2 linked regions of the Homo sapiens genome follow. The protein of the gene in region 1 purifies or fractionates together with the protein of each later gene. This does not show direct contact. Each region holds a gene or a part of one and is shown in the gene's direction. Other genes may lie near its edges.

Region 1 (3,495 bases):
GTCCCAGCTGCCCAGGAGGCTGAGGTGGGAGGATCACTTGAGCCCAGAAGTTGGAGGCTGCAGTGAGCTATGATCACACCACTGCACTCCAGCCTGGGTGACAGAGCAAGAGCCCCATCTCAGATAAATAAGTAACACTTTCTATTTAGTTTGCAAGAACAAATGATTGGCTTGGGGAAGATTTTTATGAAAATGTTTTCATAATTTGTATTGCACAATGAATACCAGAGCATGGTAAACTTGGCCAGCAGGACGCTACATGTGGATAGATGTATCCTTTTGGGTCATCTTTTCCAACTAGGATGGCCATTCAAAGTTAGGTGCCAAAATAAAGCAAATTTGGAGCCAGACCTTTAATTGAGTATTTTATCCAGTATTAAGCAATTTTTCAATCTCATTGTTTTTAATATTAATATTTTCATTAGAATGTTTCATGTCACTTAATGATGTTTTTAGATTGTGGTGGATATAATTGAATAAGTAAATATACATATATTAGAATTGCATTTTCGGCTGGGCGTGGTGGCTCATGCCTGTAATCCCAACACTTTGGGAGGCTGAGGCACTCAGATCACGAGGTCAAGAGATTGAGACCATCCTGGCCAACATGGTGAAACCTCGTCTGTTCTATAAATACAAAAATTAGCTGGGCATGGTGGCGCGTGCCTGTAGTCCCAGCTCCTCGAGAGGCTGACGCCTGTAGTCCCAGCTACTCGAGAGGCTGAGGCAGGAGAATCACTTGAACCCAGGAGGCAGAGGTTGCAGGGAGGCAAAATCGCGCCCCTTCACTCCAGCCTGGTGAAAGAGTGAGACTCCATCTCAAAAAATAAAAATAAAAAAAAATTGTGTTTTCAAAGATGTTTTATTGATGGGGTTCATAATAAAAAATATGGAGGAGATAATGATTATGAAATGCCACTTGTTAGTAGTAACAAAAGACTAGGACCTGGAACTTTAGTGAGCTAATACAGAATAACCTCCAGGGAGTTTGTTGCCATTAACGTAAGAAAGGAGAAGGCTAATGCAGCTACATAGGGTGTGTGACACTGTTTCTAGACGTTCACACACTCACACTCCAACTCATTTTTGCCTCTTACAGAGCAGACCAGGAATGCAGACTAAGCCACTTTTCATTGTATTCCTTTTTGTAGTTTTTATATTTTTAAAAATTATATCTAGATTTTTTTTTTTTTTTTTTAGACGGAGTCTCACTCTGTCGCCCAGGCTGTGGTACGATCTCAGTACACTGCAACCTCTGCCTCCCAGGTTCAAGCGATTCTCCTGCCTCGGCCTCCTGAGTAGCTGGAATTACAGGCACGTGCCACCACACCCGGCTAATTTTTGCATTTTTGTAGAGACAGGGTTTCACCATGTTGGCCAGGCTGGTCTCGAACTCCTGACCTCAGGGGATCCCCCCTGCCTTGGCCTCCCAAAGTGTTGGGATTACAGGCGTGAGCCACCGTGTACAGCTGGGATTTTGTTTTTTATTAAATAAAAGCCTACTATAAAGAGGAAACATTACTGTAGAAAAGGAAATAAAATATTGCCCCCTTTTTTGTTGTTGTTTTGAGACAGAGCAAGACTTTGTTTCCCAGGCTGGAGTGCAGTGGCACAGTCTTGGCTCACTGCAGCCTCTGCCTCCTGGGTTCAAGCGATTTTCATGCCTCAGCCACCCAAGTAGTTGGGATGACAGGCATGCGCCACCATGCCCAGCTAATTTTTTGTATTTTTAGTAGAGACGGGGTTTTGCCATGTTGCCCAAGCTGGTCTGGAACTCCTGGCCTCAAGTGATCCACCTTGCCTTGGCCTCCCAAAGTCCTGGAATTACACGCTTGAGCCACACTGCACCTGGCCTAAAATACTGCCTCTTTGTAGCTAAATTTGTATATACATCTGTAATTATTTCCATAGGAGAACCTCCTCTAAGTAAAATTACAGAGTCACAAGTAAATACATTCTTAAGGTTCACCTCCATTTGACAAATTGTTCTTTAAAAAGGCTAGACCTGTGCTGTCTAATATGGTAGCCACTTGCCACATGTAGCTATTTATATTAAAGTTTAAATTAATTAGAATTAAATAAAGTTAAAAACTTAATTCCTCAGTACTACACCAAGTGGTTTATATAATTGTATCACAGCATGTTTCATTGGACAGCTCTGGGCTGGGCCAGTTTCTGCTCCCACGCCCCGTGTCCAAATGTACCTATTTCCCTGCATTTTGCCAGCACTGGGTATTGTCATACTTTCTAATCTTTGCCAATTTAATAATTGAAAAGTAGTGATTCTTTGTTTTAGTTCTCTGATACTCATCAGCTACTGTAGTTCTTCCTTTGTGAGCTGTGTTCTTTGTCCTTTTATCTTAATGAGTTGTAACTGCTACTGTATTGAGGATATCAGTGCTCTGTCATCTATTCTGTCCTATTAAAAGGTTTAAAGCTTTTGTTATTAATTATTATTACTTTTAGAGACAAGATCTCATTCTGTTGCCCGGGCTGAAGCACAGTGGCGTGATCATAGCTGACTGCAGCCTCAAACTCCTGGGCTCAAGCAGTCCTCCCTCCTTAGCCTCCCTAGTAGCTAGGAATACAGGTGTATACCACCAGGCCCAGCTAATAAACTTTTTAATAAAATGTTTCTTTTCCATGTTTAAAAATTCTTACTGTAGCTACTATTTGTAAGTGTATAATTTACTCATACACTTGCCTTCCAGAGGCAGCACAGTTTTAAGGTTTGACCAGTTGATTTTTGTCTTTCCAGTGGAGCCAGTGAATCCTTTCTTATACTGAGTAGCAGGTTATTCCCTCTCAAAGAGATGTTTGCATTCTTGTTCACAATCTGATTCTTTATATACCCATTATTCCTCAGAGTAGAGAAAGGGACAAAGGCTTGGAATCAGACAGAAGTGGGTTCAAATCCCACTCTAGTGCTTTCTGAGTCTTCTTTTTCTCATCTGTAACATTAGGGTAATGATCCCTATCTTTCTAGAATAGAGTAGTGTGGAAATGAAATTAAACCATGCATGCAAAATGCCTAGTGCGCTGCCTGCTCTGTGCCCGGCAGCTGCTGTTCTCACCGTCTCCTTAATTCACCTTGCCCTTCACCTCTGTGTGGCACACCCTCTTTCCTAGGAATGGTTAGACTCTCCGAACTCAAATCGACAGTTCAGAATTCCAGGCCCATCAAAACGGCCACCACCTTGCCCGATGACATGATCACCCAGCGAGAGGACGCAGAGGGGGTGGCAGCGGAGGAGGAGCAGGAGGGAGACTCCGGTGAGCAGGAGACCGGGGCCACTGATGCCCGGCCTCGGAGGCGGAAGCCAGCCAGGCTGCTGGAGGCTACAGCGAAGCCGGAGCCAGAGGAGAAGTCCAGAGCCAAGCGGCAGAAGGACTTTGACATAGCAGAACAAAACGAGTCCAGCGACGAGGAGAGCCTGAGAAAAGAGAGAGCTCGGTCTGCAGAGGAGCCGTGGACTCAAAATCAACAGAAACTTC
Region 2 (3,654 bases), on another chromosome or scaffold:
CCTCCCCAGTCAGCAAGGCCCCAGATGCCACAACTTAAAGTACAGAAAATGTAGTTAACACAGCCACCACGAATTGACTAGTTGAGTGTTTAAATGAAACTATGAAGAGACACAGATGAAGCCACCCCTTCATGCAGTGAGCTGTGATTGCGCCACTGCATTCCAGCCTGGATGACAGAGCAAGACCCTGTTTCAATTAAAAAAAAAAAAAGTTCCCACTCAGATGCAGTTGGATGTTGAGAAACTGTCTCCAAGCCAGAGAAAGAGATGTAGGAGAAAACGCACCGACACACACACATAATGTTTCCCCCAGGATTAATTTTTATGTGTGTGTGTGTGTGTGTGTGTGTGTGTGTATGATTGACATGGGTGTATTTAAATATATACATATATTGGCCTTGACTCTAGCCCAAACAAATGGCTGCATAAGAAAATTGAGTGGATTTATTATTTAGAGTTTCTTCTCTTCTGAGAGTCTGTACCCCTAGTATCACTCCTGATAACTTATTTGAGCTGTGGTCCTCTGCCTTCACTTGCCATCAGTAATAGTAAAATGATTATGTGTTTTAGTCTCTACTGGCAGGTTTGAGTTTTCAGTTCACAGCTGCTGTCATTTTTAAGTAAGACACAGGGTCATTCATATGCTTCGCAAATGCCCTCACAAATAATTGTAAGAATTGGGCCTGCCGAGGAGAGTCTGCTAACTGTGCTTGTCCTGATCGTGGTTGGCCAAGCCAAGCCAGGTGGCGCTGGTCAGAGAAGTCTGCAGAGAGCAAGCAAAGGGTGGAGCAGGGCAGTATATGGTTTGGCAGAGAGGCAGATGTGTCCCAGGCAGGGTGAATGTTGTCCCAGGCAGGGTGGATGTTGCACATAAAGGCCAGAGATAGGAGGGGGAGGTCCAGGAGAGAAGGAGGTGATACCTCCCTCAGGCACTATGAGGTCCAGCATAGAGAGCTGCGGCCCCCAACTCTGCCAGCCTAGAGTCAGGGCCCCAAATCTGCCATTCCAGGCACTTCTCCTTAGTCAGAAAGCTGGAATCCTAGCTCATTGTACTCTGCCAGCTGCCTGCTTCTTAAACCATACCTGAAACTGTGGGCTTGGGAGCTCTCAAATTATTATTATTATTATTATTGTTATTTTTACTCCCAATGGAATATTGTTCAATTTTTATTTTTTATATTTTTAAATTTTTTTATTATACTTTAAGTTTTAGGGTACATGTGCACAACGTGCAGGTTAGTTCTATGTGTATACATGTGCCATGTTGGTGTGCTGCACCCAAATTCTTTAGGAAGTCTATCGGTGCAAACATTTTTGAAATGGGATTTTTTTTTTTAAAGATAATGATTGCTTCTGTTTTTCTTCATGCCCTTGCCCTCCTTTCCACACACTTATCCCTGCCACCTTCTCCCCTTCCTCCCAGTCTGAGACTCATTCATGGTCTCTGCCTCTGATCTTAGTTCTTTGACATCCCTTTGCCTCTCTCTGGAGACTCTGAACCCAATGAGAACAAACTTTTCTTAGAACAGTGTTTTTTTGGGAGGACACATAGGCACCCGGTGAAATAAGAAAACACTGGAACTAATGCATAGAACTGCAGGCAAACAGATTCCACCTCAGGTTGGGTAGTCACACGCTTAGGTGAGATGACCTGTAAGGTTCCTAAAACTGTGGGAACGTAAGACTCTACCCATAGGAACTGTCCAGCTATGGAATGGGCCACCTTTGAGGTCGAACCTCATTCTTGGAAGTGATCCAGTAGGGTCTGTAAGGCCACAGTTAATACAAGAGGAGATTTCTGTGCAGTGTGGTGGGGCACCGGGTCAGGGGACCTCTGGGCATTCATTCAGAGTGCTAATCAGAAGCTCTGGGATCCCCTTGGCCCCAGAGTCACATGGGTTTATGCCACTCAGTGCTGGACCTTTTCCATAAGAGCAAAAGGTGAGACAGTTACCATCCTCTGGGAGCCAGTTGGTCACGTTCTACAAACCTCTGTTGAGGGATTGGGCACTGAAAGGCCAGTTCCTGGCTTTGTTAAAGTCCACATTCCTAGGCAGAAGACTGGTGTCCTGCTGAGACCCCCAAGGCAGATGGGGGTGGTGGCTCGCCTCTCATTCAGCTAAGGAGAGAGGAGTTTCTCCTCTTCTCCAGGGGAACCAGCCCGGCTCAGTGCCTCTGTGCAGAGTCGGGGGACCTGAGGGAGCAAGGCTCAGTCGTTCCTTTTCTCCCCTGAAGCCTCTGTGTCCCAAGGAGCTCTGGCACTTTGTTCACCAGTGCTATGGGAACGAATTGGGCCTGACCAGTGATGACGAGGACTACGTGCCCCCTGACGACGACTTCAACACAATGGGGTGAGTGAGGCCAAGGGCGGCTGCCCAGAGGCAGCCGTGCGAGTGCCTGCAGGAAGAACCTGCCAGGCAGAGGGAACAGCACACATGCCTGTGCAGCCATGGAATGAACTGTGGAATGAAGGAGGGAAAGTGGTCACAGGTGAGGTCAGGGAGCTCGAGGGGGCAGAGCCTAAGGGCCTGGCCATCTTTATGGTTGGCTTTTACTGAGAGTGGGATGGGAAAGTTTGGCAAAGATAATTGCTAAGGTCTGATTTAACATTTCAGCAGGATCACTCTGGTCTTTGCACTGAAAATACATTAAAGGGGAACCAGGGCAGAGGCAGGGAAACCCGTGAAGAGGCTGGTGAGTAATTTAGATAGTTAGATGAGGGATGGTGGTTGTTTGGAGAAGTGGCAATAAGTGTTTAGTTCCTGAATAGATTTTGAAGGATATGTTGATGGAACAGAAAGGAACCAAAGGTGGCTTTCAGATTTTTTCGGTTTTACTGCCCAGAAGGATGGCATTGTTCCAAACGGAGATGGACAGTACTGTAGGCAAAGCAGGTTTCAGGGGAAAGATCAGGAGGGTAGTTTTAGGCAAGTTGAAATTGAGATGCCTGTTAGCTAAATGGAGATGCCAAGTGGGCATTTAGATATGGAGTGTGGAGTGCACAGGGAAGCCTGGGCTGAGGCCATAAACGCAGCAATTATTAGTGGATAGTCATGAGACTAGCTGAAATTTCAAGTGACTCGGTGAACCTAAAAAGGAGTTCAAGGACTGCCTGGGAGCACTCAGTGAGGGAAAGAAGCAGCTGAAGAGAGCTTGAAAGCACATGCAGTGAGGGAGGAAGGCCCTAGGAAGGTTTCCTATCCTGGCAGCCACGGGAAGGAAGTGAAGCAGAAGGTATTGTCACTGTATCACATGCTGTCGATAGGTTAAGCAAGATGGGAAGATGTGCCTGTAGACTGGCACAAAGCATGCTTGAGGGTGGAAGGGTAGCTAGCTGCAAGCTTGGTGGTCGTGCAAGAGGCATACAGGGAAAAAAGCAAGAAAAGAACATTGAATGTCTGTTGTGCTTAGGTCTGGGCTCAGTCGAAATAATAGTGTTGTCGCTTAACCTCTATGAATACCCATTTGGTTATCTCCAAAATGCACATAAGGATTTCCGGAGAGTTGTCAAGCATCTGGATTTGTTAAGTACAGGTCAGATGATGGTGATGATGATAGGCTGATGATTGCTCCCTTAGAGGAGGCTACAGCGGCATCCCTGAAGTGTTCCTCGACGAGCACCCACCTTCATCTCAAGGAGGTTTTCTTTCTAGG

The links.
Region 2: the proteins of DNAJC1 (region 1) and GRAMD1B purify together in Homo sapiens (co-immunoprecipitation; one large-scale study listed by IntAct). This does not show direct contact.

What each region holds. Positions count from the first base shown.
Region 1 is NC_000010.11:21,759,253-21,762,747, reverse strand, and holds part of DNAJC1 (dnaJ homolog subfamily C member 1 precursor), read left to right. Parts: intron 1-3,129; coding exon 3,130-3,495. UniProt on the Homo sapiens protein: May modulate protein synthesis.
Region 2 is NC_000011.10:123,601,191-123,604,844, forward strand, and holds part of GRAMD1B (protein Aster-B), read left to right. Parts: intron 1-2,235; coding exon 2,236-2,351; intron 2,352-3,654. UniProt on the Homo sapiens protein: Cholesterol transporter that mediates non-vesicular transport of cholesterol from the plasma membrane (PM) to the endoplasmic reticulum (ER).